Linked DNA regions of Homo sapiens: regions 2 and 3 are each reported to be linked to region 1. The links are microRNA targets in miRTarBase. Many come from high-throughput screens and were not tested one by one. Region 1 holds a microRNA gene; each other region holds the end of a gene's coding sequence.

What was found. Region 1 holds the annotated microRNA hsa-miR-874-5p (CGGCCCCACGCACCAGGGUAAGA, at 3,331-3,353, opposite strand). A microRNA usually pairs through its seed, bases 2 to 8, with sites in the 3' UTR of a target mRNA and lowers its output. Matches are read on the target gene's strand: a 7mer-m8 pairs with bases 2 to 8, a 7mer-A1 pairs with bases 2 to 7 and ends in A, and an 8mer does both.
Region 2: the mRNA of PPM1F is a reported target of hsa-miR-874-5p. Seed matches in the 3' UTR shown: 7mer-m8 at 3,852-3,858, 7mer-m8 at 4,427-4,433 and 7mer-m8 at 5,082-5,088.
Region 3: the mRNA of VWA1 is a reported target of hsa-miR-874-5p. Seed matches in the 3' UTR shown: 7mer-m8 at 5,609-5,615, 7mer-m8 at 4,588-4,594, 7mer-A1 at 4,376-4,382 and 8mer at 4,241-4,248.

What each region holds. Positions count from the first base shown.
Region 1 is chr5:137,644,288-137,652,326 of GRCh38, forward strand. MIR874 (microRNA 874) reads right to left here and starts at 3,362; the gene lies at 3,285-3,362. All of the region lies in intron 8 of KLHL3 (kelch like family member 3), which reads right to left.
Region 2 is chr22:21,916,948-21,924,986 of GRCh38, reverse strand. It overlaps PPM1F (protein phosphatase, Mg2+/Mn2+ dependent 1F), which reads left to right. Exons shown (of 8, transcript NM_014634.4): 8 at 1,516-5,562. The coding sequence ends at 1,895. Among named protein-coding and RNA genes, the nearest start is that of PPM1F-AS1, 17 kb to the left of the region's middle. RefSeq lists enhancers at 3,105-3,763, 4,425-5,084, 7,260-8,039.
Region 3 is chr1:1,437,552-1,445,590 of GRCh38, reverse strand. VWA1 (von Willebrand factor A domain containing 1) reads right to left here. Exons shown (of 3, transcript NM_022834.5): 3 at 2,709-6,510. The coding sequence ends at 5,804. Among named protein-coding and RNA genes, the nearest start is that of VWA1, 5.9 kb to the right of the region's middle. RefSeq lists enhancers at 3,963-4,112, 4,729-4,778.

The sequences.
Region 1 (8,039 bases):
TTGAACTCCTGACCTAAGGTGATCCACTCGCCTCGGCCTCCCAAAGTGCTGGGATTACAAGCATGAGCCACTGTGCCCGGCCTTTTTATAGTTGAATAGTATATATACCTCATTTTAAAATCCATTCATCTGTTGATGGGCACTTAGGTTGATGCTGTTTTTTGGCTATTGTGAATACTGCTGAAATAAACATGAGAGTACAGATATCTCTTCAACATGCTGATTTAATTTCCTTTGGATGCATACCCAGTATGGGATTGCAGGGTCATATGGTAGTTCTACTTTTAATTTTTCCTGGACACATACAACCAACCAATATAGAATCATGAAGAAACAGAAAACCCAAACAGACCAATAACAAGCAACAAGATTGAATCACTAATAAAAAGTCTGCTATCAAAGAAAAGCCCAGAACCTGATAGTTTCACTGCTGAATTCTAACAAACATTTAAAGCAGAACTAATACCAGTTATTCTCAAACTATTCTAAAATATTGAAAGGGAGGGAATACTTCCAGATTTATTCTTTGAAGCCAGGACTACTCTAATACCAAACTAGACAAGGGCATGACAAAAAAGAAAACTATAGACCAATATCCATGATGAACACAGATACAAAAATCCATAACAAAATACTAGCAAATGAAATTCAACAGCACATTGAAAAGATCATTTACCGTGATCAAATAGATTCATCCTAGGGATGCAAGGATGGTTCAATATAACACAAATCAATAAAAACGATACGTCACATTAACAGAATCAAAGACAAAAACCACATAATCATTTCAATAGATGCAGAAAAAGCATTTGATAAAACTCAACATCCCTTCATAATAAAAACTCTCAACAAATTAGAAATAGAAGGAATGTAACTCAACATAATAGAGGCCATATATGACAAACCCGCAGCTAACATCATACTAGAAAGGGGAAAGTTGAAAGCTTTTCCTCTAAGAATTGGAACAAGACAAGGATGCCCACTTTCTCCACTTCTATCCAACATAGTACTGGAAGTCCTAGCCAGAGCAATCAGGCAAGAGAAAGAAATGAAGTACATTCAAATTGAAAGGAGAAAGTCAAACTGCTTGCAGAGAATATGATCTTATATATTAAAAAGCCTAAAGACGCCACCAAAAAACTATTAGAATGAATAAATGAATTGGCAAAGTGGCAGGATACAAAATCAACATACAAAACTTAGTGGTGTTCCTATACACTAATAGTGAACTATCTGAAAAAGAAATAAAGAAAAAAACTCATTAACAATAGCTACAAAAAAAAATAAAATAACTAGGAATAAATTTAACCACAGAGGTAAAAGATCTCTACAATGAAAACTATAAAACATTGACGAAAGAAATTGAAGAGGACACAAATAAATGGAAAGATATTCCATGATCATGGAAAGAATTAATAATGTTAAAATGCTCATACTACCTAAAGCAATCTAAAGATTCAATGTAATCCTTATCAAACTACCAATGACATTCTTCACAAAAATAAGAAAAAAAAAAATCTAAAACTCATATGGGAATAGCCAAACAATCTAGAGCAAAAGGAACAAAGCTGGGGGCATCATGCTACCTGACTTCAAAATATACAGCAAAGCTAGAGTAACTAAAACAGCATGGTACTGGCATAAAAACAGACACATAGACCAATGGAATCTAAAATTAGAGAACCTAGAAATAAATCCACACATTTACAGCCAACTGATTTTCGACAAACATGCCAAAAGCACACATTTGACAAGGTGTTAATACCCAGAATATATAAGGAACTCAAACAACTAAATAACAGAAAAACAGATAATCTGATTCAAAAATGGGCAAAAAGATCTAAACAGGTATTTCTCTAAAAAAGATATATGAATGACCAACAAGTATATGAAAAAAAATGCTCAACATCACTATTTATCTGGGAAATGCAAATGAAAATCACAACGAGATATCACCTCACCCCAATTAGAAGGTCTACTGCAGAAAAGACAAAAGATAACTGCTGGCAAGGATGTGGAGAAAGAGGAACTCTTATACCCTGCTGGTGGGAAAGTAAATTAGTACAGCCCAGTATGGTCAAAAGAAATCCAATTTTTATGGTAGGTGTTGCAAGAAGCACTCATACATGGAGCACTACACCCACTACTGTGTTGATCATGCAGAGTAAAAAGAATAAATTTCCTATCATGAGTGCTAATGGATAGTTGTTTCCATGGATACCTGATGTTAGCAAGCAGTTAGGCAAATACGAGTATTTCCCACAGTCTACATGTATCACATCTCTGAAATCACAAACTTCTAGCTACTTAAGAAGACCACAAGATGTTAGAGGAAGAGACTTGAACCATTCTCTCCTATATGCCCTCATTTTATATTCCAGAAACACCCAGGCCCAGGGAGTTCAACAAGCATGTTTCTTTCTTTCCCCAACACTCCTAAACCCCAATATACTTAAGATTAATATGCCTTTATTAGAAATTACTCAATCAAATCAGCTTATTTAATGATCACTATTTTTAACATTTATCTTTCAAGGTAACCCTGAGTAAGAACTATCAGTCACGTAGGAATCACAAACTAAAGAACTGGCTCTAGGTGAACAATTATGCTAGACTGAACATAATTTAATCACTCTCGTGAACTGCAGCATACTTAGGAGTTTGGCAGGGTGCCTCAAAGTTCTGATCCCAAGTCTCAACTGTCACTGTGTTGAAGGCTGCAGAAGTTCTGGTGAATGGAGGTTCTCTGGTTGACAGAATATGAGTGAGCTGAACTCCACTGTAGCAGAGATGGTTATTAGATACCTCCCAAGGAAAACACTGTCATTTTGAAAAGTCAAATAGCCATTTATTTTAGGAAGATTAGTGAGCCCAAGCAAAAGACTACCTGATTCCTTAGGAAGGAAATTTTACTCCCAGCATAACATTTTTAAAAATAAATATATAATGCTCTCTTGTTTACATAGATGATTCTGATTCTACCAGCGTGACTGTGGGATTGAAGGCATGTTGGTCCCTCCTCACCGAAATCACAACCACCCTGTGTCTGAGAGCCATTAGGTGCCAGGGACTAGCCAGGGAAAGGGACAATCCATGAAGAGAATAGAGATTTCCAGCCTACGTGTAGATCAAGACCCTAGCCCTGGCCTCAGGACTACATAGGTCATTCAAATTTCTACTCAGGTGAGAGGAACAATCTGGGCTCTACACACTTTTTTCATCGGGCAAGAGTAGAATGCATGTCCAAACTCTCTTCTGTGACCGGTGAGCTGGGCAGAAGGCAGGCCCAGCCAGTCGGTCCCTCGGGCCAGGGCAGGAAGCGAGAGTCTCTCTTACCCTGGTGCGTGGGGCCGCAGGGCTAACACCAACAATTCATCCGATGGAGCATGTCGAGGTCGAGCCAGAAGACTTGTCCAAGCAGGTTCCTGAGCAACAGTTGCTCTAGGCAAGTACTGATAGCAAGGTGCAGAGAAAATGGGGGTCTGAGAACCAGGTAATATGAGGGCAAGGCCCGGGGGGAGAGAAGAGGAGTGGAAAAAATGGGCTTTGGAATCAGACACATCTGGGCCCAAATATAGTATCAGCCCAGTCACTATATAGCTGTGTGGCTATGAGCAAGACATTGAACCTTGCTAAGCCTCATTTTCATAACTTGTAATATCAGGATAATAGGATGCTTCCCATATGGGTGTCAGGAGGCTTAAATGATATGAAGCACTTAGCACAATGCTTGATAAATAGTAAACACTAAATGTTATCTGATTAACACTAGTGTCATTATTAGCTTCTAAGGCAGGTGCTAAAAAACAGATTCCCAATGAAAGGTAGAAAAGGATACTATGAACCTGTGAGGGAGGGTAAGTACCACTAATTCTAGGGGTGATTATGGGGCTTTTTCAGGACCCCAGGGTGCTTGTCAGGGTGTGGACCAAGGTGGAAGGGGGCAGTGCCCATCCAGGGGCCTGGGCCAAATGAGAGGTCATCCCATCCACCCTGTCAACAGCTTCTTCAAATACCATCTACTGAAAGCAGGACAGCCCAACTCAGGAGCAAGCCACCCACTTCCAGCCCAAATGGCGTTTCAGTAGCATTTTTAAAGAGCTGAATAGAGATGCCAACTGAACTGGAATGACAGTGAAAAGTGCCAGGTTCAGTACATTTCCAAAAGGTTCATTTGCATCTTCCTGAAACCTCATTTCCTTGCTGCCATCTGTGGAACAGGGTAACGTAGGAGACTTCTGAGTGGCTGGGAGACAGCCTCGGGTTGTCCATGGCAACCCAGCCTCAGGAAAAGTGCTGGGCGGTGAATGTGTGGGAGCCAAGATGATGCTGTTAGCTGTTCCGGCTGGGATGTGTCAGTATGCTCTGTGCATATATGGCTCAGGAAAAACACCTTTATTAGCCTCTGCAGCTATCTCAAGGCAGAGTCCTGTTCCTCTCAGGGAAAGGACTTGGCTGGCAAACAGAGTTACTGCTGAGAATTACTGAATATAGTGCAGGTCTCTCTCCACCATGTTGTTTTTCAAAGTTTGCTCTGCCAGAAAGCCTATCTGGACTGAATTTATGAAAGCACAAACCAGCCTGCCCTTGGAATTCCTATGCCTGCTTCTCCAACTAGTCCAATTATCTCCTGATTTTTCTTCTTTCTCTACTTATTTGGTTGTTCATATATGTCTATCTTACTTTCTCAGAGAGACTTCTTAAAATTAAAAGTCCCCAAAGGGCAGGAATCAGGTTTCTTTCAACACAGCATTCGGCTATAATGCTTTTGTGACATTTGGAAGCAATATAATAAAACAGTTCAGAGCACAGGGCCTCGGGCCAGTCATCCTAGGCTTAAACCTCAACTCAGCCATTTACTAATTGTGCTTTAAAGATGGGTCACAAATTCTGTGATACTACTACACTCAGACGTGGAACTTAATACCTCTCCCCTTAAGTGTGGGCTAGACTTAGTGACTTGTATCTAGCAAATAAAAGACAGAAGTGATGGGACATGGATTTTGACATTAGGTTATAAAAACACTACAGCTTCTGTGTTAGATGTGTGCTCTCATTTTCTTGCTCTAGAATCACCCTCTCTGGAAGAAAGCCAGCATGTCATGAGGACACTCAAGCAGCTTATGGAGAGGCCCACATGGCAAGAAACAGGCCTGCCAGCAACCACATGAGTGAGCTTAGAATCAGATCCTCCCCAAACAAGCCTGAAATAACTGCACCCCGACCAACAGCTTGACTGTATGAGAGACCCTGGGTCAAAAGGACCCAGCTAAGCCACTCCAGGATTCCTGCCCACAGAAACTGTGAGATGATAGATGTTTATTGTGTTAAGCCATCGTAGGGTAATTTGTAATGCAGAAATAGATAACTAATGCATAATAAGTGGGTGACATAACCCAAGGTCCAACTTCCTCATCTGCAAAATGGGGATAATTACAGTTATGAAAATCCTATGAGATAACAAATATAAGTCACTTAGCCCAGTGGCTGGCACATGATAAGTGCTCAGTAATTGATATCTGCTGTTATCATTATTGTGGGTACTAGTATCATGTAGTGATTAAAAGCCCAGGCTTTGAGTCAGCCAGACTTGGATTCAAGTCCTCACACTGCCACTTAAGCGCTGTAAAACCCTGGGCAAATCACTCAGTCTTACTCAATCTCACCGATTCTCAGTTGTCTCCAACATTAAAGCCTCCAGAGTTGTAATAAAGACAAAATAAGATAATGGGCATTACATACTTAGGCTAATAATGCAAAGAAGCTGCTCAGTAATTAGTATTTAAACAATACTACTTGTATCATCATCAATACCTTTGGTGATGATGACCAGGACAATGACCCAGGGAAGAAGATGCAAAGTACAAATTATTCTAAGTGGTCACCAGAGGGTGTAAACCAGTTTTCTCCTGCAGTCACCTGAACCAGTTTCTGGATGTTCACTCTCACAGACAATTTGCGTTTTACCTTGGAGACACAGCTCCTGTCAGCTCCTGCAGAAAGCTTTCCTTAACTCCTTACCCCTCTCTGTGCTCCCAGAGTGTTTTTCCTGTACCCCTATGAGGGCATTTACTCACTCCATTGCAATTGTCCTTTCACAACTGTTTCCCCTCCTCCTGGTCTGGGAGTCCCCTGGGGAAGAGACCAGTTCATATCAGCCTTCGTGAATCCAGTACTTACCCCAGTGCCTGGCAATTAGTGGTTTCTCTATGGAAGTATGTTGGATGAGTGAATTAAAAAGTAATGAATTGGCAAGGCACGGTGGCTCATGCCTGTAATCCCAGCACTTTGGGAGGCTGAGGAAGGTGGATCACCAGAGGTCAGGAGTTCGAGACCAGCCTGACCAACATGGTGAAACCCCATCTCTACTAAAAATACAAAAAACGTAGCCGGGCATGGTGGCAGGCGCCTGTAATCCCAGCTACTTGGGTGGCTGAGGCAGGAGAATCGCTTGAACCCAGGAATCAGAGGTTGCAGTGAGCCAAGATCGTGCCATTGCACTCCAGCCTGGGCAACAGGAGCAAAACTCCATCTAAAAAAAAAAAAAAAAAGTAATGAATTAATGCATACATGATTGTTGATAGCTGGATTTCAGATTTAAAAAAAAGAAAGAAAGAAAGAAAAGAAACAAAGAACCTTACAACCCTTCTAACCCCCAGGAACGACAACTGGATTCATTCAAATTTGGACTTGTAGGCTTGAATCAAACATTCTAGGGTCAACCTACATTAGTGGTCAAAGGAGGATATAAAGTAGGATATAAATCCTCACTAAAGCCATGTGAAAACGCAGGTATGAATGCTGATAAGCCCATCAGGAAAAAATGAGGGGTGATATAAATGGTCAGTATTAAGTCTCTATGAGGTTATTTCTTCTTTAAAAATGTATTTCTTTAATTGAGGCCGTGTGCCAAGGACACAGATGAGTAATGCCTGCTGCCATGGAACCTACAGTTGCGTAGAGGAGCTAACACTCTAGAAGAGAGCCCTAAATGCCTGCCTGAGGCATCAGCCTGGGCTACTCAGTAATCTTCTGAAACTACTGTCCTTGTTGTTCAAAAAGCAATGAAGCCATCACCAACCTGACCTCTCCCCCATTAAATAACCTTTCTCATCAATCACATTTCTACCTATCAGCAATAAACAATTAGAAATTGGAATTTCAAAAGAAAACATTTACAATAGCATCTAAAACAATAAAATACCCAGGGATAGATCTAACAAAAGACATGTAAGACCCATAAACTGAAAACTATAAAACACTGATGAGAGAAATTAAAGAAGACCTGCATAAATGGAGTTATGCTGTGTTCATGGATCTAAAGATTTAATATTATTAAGATGGCAGTTCCCCCATTTGATCTAGAGATTCAATACCATTCCAAGCAGAACCCCTACAAGCTTTTTTGTAGATAGACAAGTTGATTCTGAAATTTAATGGAAATGCAAAGGACCTAGACTCACAAAAACAACTTTGAAGAACAAAACTGGAGGACTCATATTGCCTAATTTTAAGACTTACTAGAAAGCTAGTAATCGAGGCAACATAGTATTGGTGTAAAGGTAGACAGATAAAATGGAACAGAAGAGAGTCCAGAAATAGACGAACACATATACAGTCAATTATTTATAACAAAAGTGACAGGGTAATTCAATGGAGAACAGAGAATCTTCCCAATAAATAGTGTGGAACAACTGGACATTCATATGCAAAACAAATGAGCCTTAGACTCTCACCTCATGCACCATATTAAGAACAACAACAAAAAAAAACTTCTCAAAATGGATCCATAGGCCTAAGTGTAAAACCTAAAACTTCTAGAAGAAAGTATAGGAGAAAATCTGTGACTTCAAATTAGGCAAAGATTTTTTATATAGAGCACAAAATAAACCATAACAGAAAAAAATTGAAAAATTAAAAACTTATGCACTTCCAAATACAGTACAGCCACCATGGAAAACAGTGTGGAACTTGCTCAAAAAAATAAAAATAGAACTACCATATAATCCAGCAATCCCACTATTGGGTATATATCCAAA
Region 2 (8,039 bases), not on the chromosome of region 1:
GGCGGAGGTTGCAGTGAGCTGAGATCGCGCCACTCCACTCCAGCCTGGATAACGAGGAAAACTCTGTCTCAAAAAATAATAATAAAAATAAATAAAAATTTTAAAAAGTAATGGGTCTGGCTGGGCATGCTGGCTCACGCCTGTAATCCCAGCACTTTGGGAGGCCAAGGTGGGCGGATCACCTGAGATCGGGAGTTCGAGACCAGCCTGGCCAACATGGTGAAACCCCTTCTCTACAAAAAATACAAAGTTAGCCAGGTGTGGTGGCACGCGCCTGTAATCTCAGTTACTTGGGAGGCTGAGGGAGGAGAAGTGCTTGAACCCAGAGGCGGAGGTTACAGTAAGCGGAGATCGTGCCACTGCACTCCAGCCTGGGCAACAGAGCCAGACTGTGTCTCAAAAAAAAAAAAAAAAGTAGCTGGGCGCGGTGGCTCACGCCTGTAATCCCAGCACTTTGGGAGGCCAAGGCGGGTGGATCACCTGAGGTCAGGAGTTCGAGACCAGCCTGACCAACATGGTGAAACCCCATCTCTACTAAAAATACAAAAAACATTAGCCGGGCGTGGTGGTGCCTGCCTGTAATCGCAGCTACTTGGGATGCTGAGGCAGCAGGATCACCTGAACCCTGGAGGTGGAGGTTGCGGTGAGCCAAGATTGCACCATTGCACTGCAGCCTGGGCGACAAGAGCGAAACTCCATCTCAAAAAAAAAAAAAAAAGTGGGTCCAGCCTGCATCTCATTGTCTCAGCATGCGGTCAGTGCCGGGTCTCAGGCTGTGGGCACTGTGACCACACCTCCTTCCTGGTACTTAGAAAATCTCTCCCTCCCCAGCTGATTGCCAGGGATTTGGCACCTACCCCTCTGAAACATTCTGTCCTTTTTGGCAGATGTGGCACCTTCTTGACAGCCCATCCTCAGGCTGTGTCTTTCCTTGTGTCTCTGGACACTCCAGGAAGTGAGGCCAGGATGGGACGGCTAGGGCAGAGAAAGAGGGAGCTCGGCCTGGTGTGGTGGCTCATGCCTGTAATCCCAGCACTTTGGGAGGCTGAGGTGGGCAGATCACAAGGTCAAGAGATCGAGACCATCTTGGCCAACATGGTGAAACCCCATCTCTACTAAAATACAAAAAAAAAAAAAAACAATTAGCTGGGCATGGTGGCGCGAGCCTGTAATCCCAGCTACTCGGGAGGCTGAGGCAGGGGAATCGCTTGAACCCAGGAGGCAGAGGTTGCAGTGAGCTGAGATCGCGCCACTGCAGCCTGGCGACAGAGCAAGACTCCATCTCAAAAAAGAAAAAAGAAAAAAAGGGGGAGCTCACAGGCCAAGGTCAGGGGTTTCCGTTCCCAGGCAAGTGGGAAGTACTGGGCAGTTTGCATAAGGGAGCAACAGACCCCAGACCCCATGAGAGCAGGTTGGTCTCTGTCCCTGCAGGATGTGAGGTCTAGGCCTGGGTAGGTGGGGAGGAAGCTGTGGACACCGTGGTCCTCTGACCCGGGCTCTTCTCCGCCTGTCCAGGGGATGTCTTCCAGAAGCCCTACGTGTCTGGGGAGGCCGATGCAGCTTCCCGGGCGCTGACGGGCTCCGAGGACTACCTGCTGCTTGCCTGTGATGGCTTCTTTGACGTCGTACCCCACCAGGAAGTTGTTGGCCTGGTCCAGAGCCACCTGACCAGGCAGCAGGGCAGCGGGCTCCGTGTCGCCGAGGAGCTGGTGGCTGCGGCCCGGGAGCGGGGCTCCCACGACAACATCACGGTCATGGTGGTCTTCCTCAGGGACCCCCAAGAGCTGCTGGAGGGCGGGAACCAGGGAGAAGGGGACCCCCAGGCAGAAGGGAGGAGGCAGGACTTGCCCTCCAGCCTTCCAGAACCTGAGACCCAGGCTCCACCAAGAAGCTAGGTGGTTTCCAGGCCCCTGCCCTCCCCTTCCTCCCATCCTTGTCCTTCTCTCCCTCAGAAGCCTCAGGACCCAACAGGTGGCAGGCAGTGGACAGGGTGCCCGCCCCACAGTGCTTTCCCCAGCACCCCAGAGCCAGTCGGGACACCCCCCGCAGCCCGTCCTGGTGGCTGTGGAACTGCACTGGGTGGCGGGCAGATGGTGGAAGGCAGCTTAGGAGACCTCACCAAAGAGAAGATGGACCGGCTCTTGCTCCCAGCTCCTATTAGGCCCGGGGTGGGACCAGAGGTCATAGGTGCCCAACGGCAGCCAAACCAAAGACACTGGTGTGCATGGGGCAGCATGGTTGTGCACGTGGGACCCTGGGGCGGACCCAGGAGCCAAACTCTTGAAGCACCCCCTGGGTCAGGCCCAGCAGCGGAGTGGCCAGCCCCAGTTTCCCATTGCTCCTCTCTGCGGCCAGGGCCAGGTGGGTTCATATTTACAGATATGCCCAGCCAGTCCTGGTCGGCCACACCAGTGTCCCAAAGAGGAGAGCGCAGCAGAGCCAGGGGTCTGTTCTGTAGCAGCCACCCCCCTGCCCCCACTCCAGGGCAGCCATGATGTGCTTGGGCCCACCAGGGCCTTCCGGGCTGCTCTCTTCCCTGAGCCCGGAACCGGCGACGCACATGTGTCTTTTGTTGGTGTGTTTGTTTTTTTCCAGGGAGGTCTAATTCCGAAGCAGTATTCCAGGTTTTCTCTTTGTTTTATCAGTGCCAAGATGACCTGTTGTGTCATATAATTTAAGCAGAGCTTAGCATTTATTTTATTCTTTAGAAAACTTAAGTATTTACTTTTTTAAAGCTATTTTTCAAGGAACCTTTTTTTGCAGTATTATTGAATTTATTTTCTAAATCAGGATTGAAACAGGAACTTTTCCAGGTGGTGTTAATAAGCCATTCAAGTGCCTTACACAGCTTTGAAGAAACTAGGACTGCAGTGGGCTCGGATAGGCCCATTGAGGTTTTTAGAAAAGCAGGATTTGTTTTGTTAGGGAGGCATGATTTTGGTGAGATCTTTCTGGAAGAGTTTTCCGCCTCTTTGTGATGCTGAACACCCCCAAGGTTCTCCCCTCCCCCCGCTGCCCAGGTGACTGGCAGGAGCTGCGACTGCCACGTAGTGGTGCCTGGGCCCGACAGCGGGGCTCTGGGCATCCCGGGTGACCTTGGCCCATCTGCCTGCATTCCCACCCCCTTGGGCCTGGCTGGATCCCAGGCAGAGGGACCTTGCTGCTGTGTGATTGGAACATTCCCAAATATCTTGTGAATTTGTAATCAAATTGGTCTCATTGGGAAAGACTCTTAATTAAGAGGCTCAGGCAAGCACAGAGGCAGCCCGTGGGTCTCTGTCTCAGTCTGGAGGCAGCAGGGATGCTGCTGGGAGTCCATGGCACAGGCCACAGCCCCTCACCTTGCCGCGGTGGCTGGCAGCACGCCTGCCTTGCTCTGCCCCATGCCCTGAACAGGCATGAGAGCTCCACGTCCCCTAGTGCACCCTGAGAGGGGGCTCACAAGTGACCGATCCTGGGTGCCTCAGGGAGCTCACTGAGGGCGTGCAAAGTTGAAAGTGGCAAGGCTGGGGGAGGGTGTCGGGTAGAGGGAAGAGGGCAGGGGGCTAGGGGAGGACTCAGAGGCCATCTGCAGGGCCAAGCCACAGGAAGGGCTGAGCTGGAGGTGGGCAGGGCTGCTCCAGGCAGGTCAGAGCAGTGCAGGGGGAGGAGAGGAGAAAGGGAGGAAGCTGGGCTGTGTGGTCCCCATGAAGGCATTCAGAGTCCACCTGCAGACAGCGAGAGCCCCAGGAAGGTTTGCACAGCTGTGCCCCAAGCACCTTGGCCTCCTCTCAGCTCGCCGAGGAGGCACGCTAGAGCCGCCTTCCCGGTGGGAGCCCTCTGTCCCACAGGGAGCGGGGAGCCAGCTTTGCTGGGGCCCTACCTGCATGCCCAGCCTTACCCCTCATTCTCACAGCACAGATGAGGTTGAGACCATGCAGTCAATGCATTGCTTAAGGTCTCTTATTTACAAAAAAAAACCTTAAACATAGTCGCTGTCATTCAGACATTCAGAGAATGGTTGGCCACAAACAATGACCAAGTATTGCTTGGCTTAACTTGAAGGCCTGCTGTCTCCTTCTGGGGGTCAGGGACGCAGCTCCACCCTCACCACTAGCCCACCCTGCCCGTGGGCATAACCTTGACGAAGAGAGAGAATGATTGGCATCTGCTTTTCTCTTTTCTTTGCTAATAATTCTGTTCCTGGCTGCCGAGAGTGAAGTTTCACCATGTGGAGGTTTGGCTCCTATCACCTGGTGGTCTGATTCATACCCTAGCCTGAGGCTCCACTGGAAGATCTCGCAGCCTCAGTGTATGGGAAACCCTTTCCCCAGGCTTGTCCCAGCACTGCCGCTCCCCACCCCTGAGCCAGGACCCCAGAGGATGGCCATGCCCCGTGCCTGGCAGAGGTCTGGTGCCAGCACTGGGAGCTGCTCCGCCCTTGCCTTGGGGCCGAGGGAGCCCTCGTCCACCCCTGCACAGCAGCTGGGCACAGAGGAGCGCTCTTCCATCTTGACCAGGACTGCACCAAGAAGCACCAGGTGTCTTCAGCCTCCAACCTCCGGGGCGACCTTCTCTTCCAGCCACAGTCCCATGAGGGCCCCTAGCCAGGGACACTGGTCTGTAAATTGTAATCCTTTCTCCAGCCCAGCTCTCCACTTGTTCCTTGTGTGAGCTGAGCAGGCAGTGCACCTCTGAGTGTCCCTTTTGTAAGGCCCAGGGGTTGCACTGAGTCTGCAGAGGCCGCGACCTCCTAGAACGCTGTGGGTGCAGGTGAGCCGGCGTGTCCTGGGGAGATGCTGCCAGCACACAGGGGCCCTCCTGCTGCCAGCAGGTTGGGGTGGTTAAGTCTTATTAGTGTCTATTCTTAAAATTAAGTGGGCTGGAGAAGAATGGAGCTCCACATGCCAGCACCGTATATGGAATACAAAAGCTGGGGAAGCAGGGCCTGCCTTACAGGTGTGGCTGACTCTGAGCCCAGGCCTGCAGGGGTGGAGGGCAGTCCCTCAGAATCCCAGAGGCAGTCCCAGCCTCAGAACCCAGGATAGGAAATGGGTGTGTTTAGTGGGGAAAGGGACGGGGTGCAGACGGCAGGGCCAGTATGGGGCCCCCTCCCTCTCCTCTCCTCTCCTATGGTGAGCCCAGCGTGGGCACCGGGCCGTCTCAGCCGTGTTCCCAGGGCTGGGAGGACAGCTCTGGCCCTTCTTAGGCCTAGCCTCGTCCCAAGCTAAATGTAAGCCAGTTGGGCTGTGTTAAAGGAAGCAGTGTTTTTGGTTCGATTCTGCCTCTGTAGCTCAAGGGGGGCAGCCCCCAGAGTCCTGTGCATTCTGCCAAGGCTCCATAGCTTTGCCAAATGCACGGAGCTCTGCCATTCCGGTGCAGTGCAGGCCTTGCGAAGGGTTTATCTGCGTTCGTCTCGGTGGGCTTCTCCTGCATGGGAGTTGTGTTCCTGTGCAAGGGGGAGCTTTGCTCCAGGACAGGATGACTGTCTTCCCTATTCTTAGGGACAAGTCCCAAGATGCCAGAAAGGCAGTCTCCCAAGGACCCACCATGCAGAAGTGTCAATAAACCACAAGTTCTGAACTCTGTCGCCCGAGTCCTGCCTTCTTCCTGACTTCTGAGCATCTTGTCCCCTTTGATGTCCAGATGTGTTTGGAAGCTGCTTTAATATTGGGGACCATCTGCAAATCTTGCGAAGCGAGCAGACAAATTCTGGAGAGAGCCCTGGTGGCCTACACCCTCCTGGTCTAGCCAGCAACCTGATTTTCCTCCCTGAGGGGCTCTGAGCCCACCCCCACCAGCAGCAGGAAGGTGACAGGAAAGGGATTAAGCCCCTGGGACCTCACATGACATTGGGGAGCCACAGGAGCATTGAGGACCCCTCATTTTATCCAGGAGCCTGATGTGCCCCAGGAGGTTCCATCCTGAGGATGGAGACCCTCTGACATGACGCTCTTGAGGCCCACCATTTATACCCTCCTGGCACCTCCTGAGGCCAGGTGTGGTGGCGCACACCTGTAATCCCAGCACTTTGGGAGGCTGAGGTGGGAGGATCTCTTGCGCTCAGGAGTTTGAGACCAGCCTGGGCAACATAGGGAGACCCCCATCTCTACAGATAATCAAAAAATTAGCCCCAGTATGATGGCACAAGCCTGTAGTCCCAGCTACTTAGGAGGCTGAGGCAGGAGGATCGCTTAAGTTTGAGGAGCTTGAGGCTGCAGTGAGCTAGGATTGCGCCACTGCACTCCATCCTGGGTGACAGAGCAAGACCTTGTCTCAAAAAAAGAACAAAGCACTGAGCCTTTCTTCTGCCCCCTGCTCCCGCCACCCCGCTCCGCCATCCTCGAAGCCTGCATGGCACTTGTCCCACATGGGAGCTCGGCTGCCGCCCAGAAGTGAATCCACTGCAGGTTCACTGCTGGTGCTCCCTGAGGGGCAGGGTTATAGGGGGTTTTTTCCTCCCCCCTTTAGGTTTTCTTCTAAATCCTAATTTTTTTTAGTACGGTGAACATGCTTTAAAAATGCTTTTATGTAATCTGTCATGGGAATTTTAAGGGAAAAAAAAGATAAAAATGCCTTAACAGAAGACCTGGAGAGATCCACCAGCAGCAGGGGTGGGCAGTGCTAAGCCCTGGGGTCCTGGTAGAGAACTAGGAATGGCAGTGGTGGCTGCACTAGGTGGGGGAGCGAGGCTGAGGGGGTGGGGAGCAGCGCTTCGGTGGTGGGCAAGCCTCACTGTTCCTGGTGGAAGGGACTGGCCCCTGATGGCTGCTTGGACAGATATCAGAAACTCACCTCAGGACCACCACACCTGATGGATTTTAGGGAACCCCCCACAAGGCCCGCCCACCTGCCTCCCTTTGCTCTAGACCTGTGGCCCCCAACCACAACCTCCAGTCCAGACCTCTGTAGCCTCACCCACCCAAGGACGGCCAGCAGCAAAATGCAGGGCCTTGGCCCGAGCGTTGCTGCTGGTCGCTTAGCAGGCTGGAGGGCTGGTTCCCCCTGAAGCCCCAGGATAGCACGCACAGGCCCAGTCCCATGTGGCTGCAGCTCCTAGCACACATGAAACTGCTCTTGGAGACGGCTTCAGAGCCTTCTCAGTGCCCTCAGGGGGTCAGTATTGAAGCAGCCAGTCGTGGGACTCTGTCGACCAGTCCTTCAGCGCATGTTGGCCAAGTGTTTGCCACGCTGCTGCAGGTGCTGGGGCAAGGGATGAGCCAGCTACCAATTCCCCACCTAAGACAAAGAGGATTCGGCTTATCACACAGGGGTCAAGTGCCCCTAGGCCGCAAAGCTGCTAAGGGGTCCAAGCCTTGGAAAGTCACCCTTCTCAGAGTCCCCAATTCTTCACTGCCTTTTGATCTTTGGTTCCTTTCTCAATCAAGAGAAAGCAAGGCAGCAGGGGCCGGGAAACTCGCCCTTGTGCTCCTGGCTGAGCTCAGGCTTCAAGGGCACACAAACATCAGAAATGCCTCCCCGCAGACACTGCCCAGCCACGGCCAAAAGTGCTGCCCTGAACTTCTCCGTAGAATGTGGGGGAGGCCCTCAGGCTTGTGGGCGCATGGGAGCAGCTGTCCTAGGGCTGCCTGAGCCCGGTGCCTTCCCCACTCCCACTTTGCCTGCAGGCCTCCTCTCTCCTGTCTGTAGCCTTGTCTGTGCATTTTCTCCTGGTCCTTCCCAAGCCACCTGAGAGAGCTCTCAGTCCCCTCCCCCGGCTCCCGGCAGTGCCTGCTGCCCAGGGCTGCAGCCTCCAACTCTCCAGGACCAGCGCCAGAAAAGCAGCTTTTTTTTTTTTTTTGAGAGAAGTCTTGTTCTGTCTCCAGGCTGGAGTGCAGTGGTGCGATCTTGGCTCACTACAACCTCCACCTCCTGGGTTCAAGCGATTCCCCTGCCTTAGCCTTCTGAGTAGCTGGGACTACGGGTGCACACCACCACGCCCAGCTAATTTTTGTGTAGAGATAGGGTTTCACCATGTTGGCCAGGATGGTCTTGATTTCTTGACCTTGTGATCCACCCGCCTCAGCCTCCCAAAGTACTGGGATTACAGGCGTGAGCAA
Region 3 (8,039 bases), not on the chromosome of region 1:
GAGTTGGAGACCAGCCTGGGCATTATAGCAAGACTCGGTCTCTACAACAAATTTTTAGCATTAGCGGGCGTGGTGGTGCACGCCTCTGGGGCTAATTAGGGCCTAGTAGGGTATGGCTACTGGACAGGCTGAGGCAGGAGGATCACTTGAGCCTGGGAGGTCGAGGCTGCAGTGAGCTATAATCACACCACTGCACTCCAGCCTGGGCTCAGAGTAAGAACCCATCTCTAAAAGGAAAAAGAGAGAAATGGAGAGAGCGCGCAGAGGTAGACAGCCTCCCTCCAAGCACTGCAGCTCCGAGGGGTCTGCTCTCCGATGGGCCCGTTGCATGCCCAGGCCGAGGGGTCTCGTTCTCCGATGGGCCCGTTGCGTGCCCAGGCCGAGGGGTCTGCTCTCCGATGGGACCGTTGCGTGCCCAGGCTCCTCTTCTGTTTCCTACTTCAACCAACAGCCTACACCCTTCCTAAGGACACAAAGTTCAGAAAGCATTGTTTCATCGACCAATATGAGGCTCTGCGCCATGGCACTGTGCTGTCTCGTTGCTGTGATTCCCCCGACCACCCCTGCACCCCACCCTGCCCCCAAAGCAAAGGTTTCCTGTCTGAGAGTCCTCCAGCAGCGAGGACCTGGAGGAGTGACTGTGCAGGTTCCAGATGCAGGTGGACAGCCTGGCCTCCGGCCTGACCTTGAGCCAAGACAGGGACGCAGCTGCCTCCGGAAGCCTGGGCCAGCGGGGACAGGGGCTGCAGTCCCAGAGTAGGCCCCAGCCAGGCAGTGGGTACCACGCTCTGCTCCCAGAATTCAGGCAGCGAGTGTGGTTCCTGAGCTCTCTGCATCTGAGCAGACCTCTGGGGACAGGGAGCTGCATGGCATGCCAGGACTGTGGTCTCTCAGTGTGGCCTGTGGCCCCCAGTGACCCAGCCCCAGGGCACCCAGGACCGAGGCTGCAGTGGCCGACTGCGTGTCTTCCATGGACGATGCCTGGGCAGAAGCGTGCCCTCTTACACCTGGGCGCAGTGTGGTCATGAAGTCACCGCTGGCCCCCACATCACTCTGCAGCCTCATTCTTCTCGGGGGCCCGGCCTTCAGGAGGGAGGGGCAGGTCCCATTCCTATTCCTTCTCTCCAGCTTCCAAAATGACCCAGTAGTTCTGGTCTCAACCTGGGCCAGCATGGGCCCCCTGCTCCTTCCCCACTCGTTCTGGTCTCAGCCTGGGCCAGCATGGGCCCCCTGCTCCTTCCCCAATGGGCAGGTCCTCGCACAACCAAAAGAAGAGCTGCCCAACTGGACCCTCCTGAGCCACGGCCCCCAGTGTATGGCCCTGGGCTACTGGTCCGCCCCAACCACCCACCAAAAGCAGGGCTCCCAGTTCTCCATAGGGCTCCCTGAAAGCCATCAGCCCCTGCCAGCACTCCTCAAAGTGCACTGATTCTCGAGAGGCAAACGAAAGCAGCAGTGCCAGGCCAGGCGCGGTGGCTCCTGTCTGCAGTCCCAGCACTGAGGGAGGCCAAGGCAAGAGAATCCTTTGTGGTCAGGAGTTTGAGAACAGCCTGGGTAACAGGAAGACCCTTATCCCTAAAAAAAAAAATGTTGCCAGGAGTGGTGACTTACACCTGTAATCCCAGCACTTTGGGAGGCTGAGGTGTGTGGATCACTCGTGCCCAGGAGTTCAAGACAAACATGGGCAACACGGCAAAATCCCATCTCTACTAAAAATACAAAAATTAGCTGGGCGTGGCGGGGTGCGCCTGTAGTCCCAGCTGCTCGGAGGGCTGAGGTGGATCGTTTGAGCCTGGGAGATGCAGGCTGCAGTGAGCTATGAGTACATTACTGCACTCCAGCCTAGGAGTGAGATCCTGTCTCAAAAAAAAAAAAAAAAAAAAAAAAAAAAAAAAAAAAAAAAAAAAAAAAAAAAAAGGGACCAGGCAGGGTGCTCACACCTGTAATCCATGCACTTTGGGAAGCTGAGGCGGTTGGATCACCTGAGGTCAGGAGTTCGAGACCAGCCCGGCCAACGTGGTGAAACCGTCTCTATTAAAAATACAAAAATTAGCCGGGCATGGTGGCACCTGTAATCCCAGCTACTCAGGAGGCTGAGGCAGGAGAATCGCTTGAATCTGGGAGACAGAGATTACAGTGAGCTGAGATTGCGCCGCTGCACTCCAGCCTGGGTGACAGAACAAGACTTTGTCTCCCCCCACCCCCCAAAAAAGCAGGAAACACACAGCTACTGCCCGGGAGCTGACAGTCCTAAACTGTCCTCTCTCTGGCGGGAGGCTGTCATGTGGGCTGTGCTTCGGGGACTGGACTTGGTTTATTACTGTCACTATAGAAAATTGACTTGGTTTGGCCGGGCGCGGTGGCTCACCCCTGTAATCCCAGCACTTTGGGAGGCCGAGGCGGGCGGATCACCAGGTCAGGAGATCGAGACCATCCTGGCTAACACGGTGAAACCCCATCTCTACTAAAAATAGAAGAAATTAGCCGGGCGTGGTGGCAGGCGCCTGTTAGTCCCAGCTACTCGGGAGGCTGAGGCAGGAGAATGGCGTCAACCCAGGAGGCGGAGCTTGCAGTGAGCCGAGATCGTGCCACTGCACTCCAGCCTGGGCAACAAAGCCAGACTCCATCTCAAAAAAAGAAAAGAAAAGAAAAGAAAATTGACTTGGTTTATCACCGTCACTATAGAAAATTGACTTGGTTTATCACCGTCACTATAGAAAATTGACTTGGTTTATTACCGTCACTATAGAAACAGGCGACCTGCTTCCCTAGGTGGCTCCCAGCAGCGTGGCCCACGCTTGGACACCCCACTCCCCAGAAATCTGGACTGAGACCCCAGGCCTCTGTCTGGCTTCTCACGAACAGCTGTCTGGAGAGCTTCACGTGCTGGAGAGCTGTTGCTCCGTCATCGCTCACAGAGGCATGGGCCCGAATTTCAGCCCCCTCTGCCTCTCCGTCCAGTGGCCAGCAATGGGCTGTCCAGCGAAGGGCCTCGCACAACCTGTCAGGGACTGGTCTGGCACGCAGCCAGCGTGAAATCCTCAGGTTGGTTCTCTTCAGATGTGGGAGGTGACCGCAGCCCTGCTCACAGAGAGGGTGGAAACTGGCGCAGGTGTGGGAGCAGCCTCCCTTCGGGGTCTCCTCGAAGTACCCAGGGCTCTCCCCAGCGCTGCCCGCCCCCAGCCTTCTGAACACCTGCCACGTGGATCACAACCTTGTCGCTCTTCTCGTCTCAACTAGAAGCAACTGCAGCATGGCCCTTCCCGATTTCCAGGTGCATGTCGAAAAGCGTGCAGTGGCCTTGTGACGTGGCCGGGCCCTTGGCAAGGAAGTCCTGGCGGGTATCAGCCTCTGCACTGCACCCTGGGTGGACTGAGTCGGGGCCAGGATTGTGTCAGGGGAGGTGGAGGAGACGCGGGGACAGCCGGTTCACAGCGGCCTGGACGGAGCACTCCGGGGCCAGAGCTGTTCTGAGACTTGGTGCAGATTCAAAGATTTTAAAATGCCTGGGGCTACATAAGGGGCAGCACTTCTCAGACGAGGGCTTCTGAAAGGGGCATTCCTTGGCACTGAGATGGAGACGGCAGTGCCTTTTCACCCTCTCCGTGAGGCCTTGTGCTGTGCTCAGCCTTGGTGTGCAGAGATGGGCAGAGGGGAGGCAGAGCCTCTGCCAGACGGGTATGTGGGGAGCAGGGTTGTGGCCAGGGCCCCCGCTCTGCCCTCTCGGGATTGCAGAGCTGGAGCTCCTCCCAGCTTCTCATGTGAGTCTGAGTCGTCCACAGAAGCCACTGAGGCCACCAGGAATGAGCCCCTGGTGCCCCGCTGCCACCTGCAGGGTGCTCCGTGAGCTGGGCCTGGGCTCAGTGTGCAAGAGGCATCTCCTCTCACGTGACCGTGGGCTCAGATCTGCCAACACTCCGGAGAACAGGGTAGGGGGCAGGGGCTGCACGAAGGAGATCCTACCCCTCCAGAGGAGGTGGGGCCCGAGGCCCGGGCCTGCAACCCTGGCCACCTGCCGACCAGCAGTGCAGTTGTGAGCACGCCACCTGCAGTGACACACACAGCCCATGGGTCCTACTCAGGCCTCCGTGGCCTGACTTGGGGGCTAAGGGGAGCTCAGGAGAAACCCAAAGTCCAGCCAGCAGGGCCCCCCCACAGACACCCCCTGCACACACAGGCAGGGGGGCCTACTGTGTCTCATGCATCATCACACCGGAGGGCAAACTCTGCGTGGTGAGCCTGGCCCCAGCCGGCCCTCCATGAATGGTGACCACACCCAGCTGGTGGGCGGTGTGGCCTTGGGTTTCTGGTGGGGCCACGGGATGCACAGAGCTGGGTTCTTGGGAGACGGTGCCAAGGCCAGCTGTCCCGAAGGTGGCCCCTGGCACAATGCCCACCAGACCTGAGGGAGGGACTGAGACCACCTCAATGCTGCAGTTCCTGGGGTCACGCAGAGTCCACGTGGGGAAAGGGGCAGTGGACCCCATGCGGTGCAGGGTGTGGCTTTGCCAGCAGAGGGAGCCCGCGTGGCCCTGGGCCCAGGGCTCCGGGCCGTGGCAGAGACTGCGGTGGGAATGGCCCTGCAGAGGCCCCAGCCCCCTTGTCCTCTGCATTCCAGCCACCTGCCCTGGGCCCAGCTCCAAAGGAAGGGGGCCCAAGCTCTCTGAATAAAAGGTGCACATGAGGACCAAGGAGGCCTGACACTGGGAGGGGACAGCTCCACCTCCTCTCCCCGGACACCCCAAAAGGCGGAGACGTTCACAAGCTGTCCTGTCGGCGGCTGCTGTTTGTGGAGGAGTAAAGCATCCTAGCGAGACTGCAGGCTCGGTGTACATCTGATTTACTGAATTTTAAAGTCTGGGATGTTAGTGGGGAAGAGGCGAGGTGAGCATTGCGTGACGCCGAGGACTAGGCGGGGCGGGGACTGCACCTGGCTAGGCACCCCCACCCTGGGCAACTTGCCCACGGACCCCAGGGCAGTGAGTAGTGACAGGAGGTAGCCCGGGGTGAGACCTCTCACAGCAAGAAGATGGTGTGGTTGCTGGGGCCTCCCTGGAGAGTGTCGTCCCTGCGGCCCCTGGGAAGTGCTCCCTCACGACGGAAGGTTTCCTGTCAGTGCGGTCCCGGGGCCTGATAGTGGCGGTGGGCGGGTGGGGTCACGTGTCCTCAAGGTCCTGAATGCCCAGCTCTGCCCCATTCCTCTGATTCCCAGTGGCTGCTAGCTGGACCCAGCTGGTGTCCTGGGCATGAAGGCAGGGCCACCGTCCCCAGCAGGTGCTGCCCTCCTGGCCAGCTGAGCATCCTGGCCACCATCAGCGTCCAGGTGCCCCTACTCGCCCTTCCTCTTCTTCAGAAGCCTTTGCGGACCTGACCTGGGCCAGCTTCCCGCGATTCCCCTTCCGCTTCCTATCAACGTCCAGGACCCAAGCTGCCCGCCCCAGGCCAGCCCTTGCCACTTGGGGCCCGGTCTTCACACGTGGGAGTCTGACCGGGGCTCCTCCCTGAACAGTCCTGGGTCTGACGCTCTCAATTATCACCCACGGACCCACACGACGCCCGGCTCTGGGCGGGGATGGGGCCGGGGCTGCTGCGGGGTCCCGCCAGGCGAGGCCCCAGCCCTGGAGGGCAGGCGCCAGGCGGGGAAGCCCTGCGGCCGCAGGGAGAGGGCCGGGGTCGCGCGGAGTCCGCGTGGGGAAAGGCCGGGCCTGCACCCGTCTGCCGGGTTGGGCGCCTCCGCTCCGGGTTCGGGACACAGGGGCCCTCAGGTAGGCGCCGGCCCTCTCGGCTGGGCGGGGACGCCGGCTTACGGCTCACGGCTGGCGGTCCCCGGGGTCGGGGCGCGGGGCACGGGGCGTGGGCGCGGGCGCGGGCCGTCGGGCGTGCAGGCCTTGGCGGACAGCGCGCTCTCGCGGCCCGAGCGGAAGGCGGCGGTCACGGTCACCAGGTAGGCGGTGCCCGGCGCCAGGCCCTGCAGCGTGGTGCAGTTGCGGCCCGCGGGCACCTCCACCCGCTGCGCCTCCCCGCCCCGCAGCGGCCCGAACTGCACGTGGTAGCCGAGCGCCGCGGCTGAGCCCAGCGCTGGGGCCCAACTCACGCGGAGGCTGCGCGGCCGGGCGTGGGAGATGACGATGCGCTCTGGCCCGGCCTCCTCTGGGGCGGGGAGGGCGGCGAGCTGCGTGGGGGCCGGCCCAGCCCCCGACTCCGGGCCCGAAGCCCCCGGCCCTGCCTCACCGGGCCGCGTGCGCACCCGCAGGATCTGGGGCCTCAGGAGGCGCACGTTGGACTCAGGCACTAGCGCCACGTCGTAGTCCGTGTCCGGGTCGAGGCCGGCCCAGATCCAGTCCGTGGCGTTCCCTGGCAGCTGCTGGCGTCTTGCAGCCCCCGGCTGGGCGCTGGGCACCAGCTCCAGCACATAGTAGCCCGAGTCTGCGGTCAGCAGGGGTGGCCAGGCCAGGCGGAAGCCGCTGGACGTGATCTCCGTGGCATGGAGCTGCTGCGGCCGCATCGCGTCTGTGGGTGGTGCAGGGGGTCAGGGAACAGCGGTCAGTTCCTCCTCCGCTGCTGGAGGGCGGCCCTGGCTGATGGGGAAGATCTGGAGATTGGAGGCCCCACTAGGAAAGACGGGGCCCCGCGGCCAAGGAGCTGCTGGAGCCATGCCCCGCAGATGCTGGGGATTCTCAGAACGTGCCTTGGCTGGGGGAGGACGGAGGAAAGGGTGCAGCCCCCTCAGGCCCTGTCAGAAGCGCCCCTGCCTCCCTTAGCCCCAAACCCAGTCCTTTGTGGAGAGGTGCAGTGGCCAGATCAGTGACCAGGACAAAGGTCCTCAAAGACGGCAGAGTCCACGGTGGTGCCTGAGAGCAGAGGACCAGCCCCAGCCTGAGTGGCCAGGCCGGGGTCTGAGGTCAGCCCGGCTCTCTGAGCTGCAGCTAGGAGATGGGAGACCACAGGGGCAGGCCCTGGGGTTCTGGAGGCGCTGCCTGCCCTGGGTCCCCAGGAGAGTGTGGGGTGGGGTTCTCCAGAGGGGGACTCCTGGACCTGTGACACCAAGCCCCACATAGCCCTCTGAGTGACCCTGCTGTGGCGAGGCTCATAAATGTCTGCGCTGGGTTAAAGCTATCAGGATCTTCCTCCTGCAGTGCTGGGTGCCTGGGCCACTTTCTTCCCATCCCCCACCCTCAGACCCGGCCTCTTTCCCAGGAGCCCCCACCCTGCTGCCTGGCCCCTCGGCACTGCAGCCTCAGGCTTTTCCTTTGGCTGCTTAAGGCAGCCTTTCCTCCTGGTCCCCTCCAGGCGCAGCTGCACTGGGTGACCTGGGGCCACTAGGGGCCAGACGTCCCTGGGGAAACCTTGGGGAGGGCCGTCCACCCCTCTCCAACCCACAGTCCAACCCCTTCCGGCTCTGGGTGGATGATTAACCCACAGACGGAGACTTGGTGAGATCCCCAGGGTTGGCATTTTTCAGTGGCTGCAGCAGGCTGAGCCAGTGGCCGGTTCCTCATCTCCAGCCCCAGCTCCTTCAGGGCTTGGCTGGGGCAGGGAGGTCCAGAAAAAAAGCCAATGGGAGCTGCTCAGCTCCTGCCTCAGGCCTTCCCTGGTCCGGCCTCTCAGGAAACCCTCACAGTGGGCCTGCAGTCCGAACTAGTTCAAAGCCCTCGGCGGCTGTCCCCACCCAGGAGAGGTGCCCTGTGCTCTCTGGGGGGGCAGTCCCTGACCTTTCTGGCTCACCCCTCTCCAGGTATGGTGGGCATGCTCAGGAGCACATGCTGCCCATCTGCAGAGTCCCCAGACTTGGAAGCTTCTTCCTGGGCCTACACCCGGGCTCTGCACTCCCTGGGGCCTCGAGGTCTGGGCTGGACACATCAGCAGGGAGCTACACCTGGAGGTGGCTACTCAAGCCTGCCCCCGTCTCAGCAGGGTACACGGGTCGCCCAGTGAAGAGTGTGCATAGACAAGCTGCATCACTCAGCCCTGCACCCTAGGGGTACCACAGCCCCGGAGGCCCTGGCCGCTGCTCTGGGGACATGAGATCTTCCCAAAGT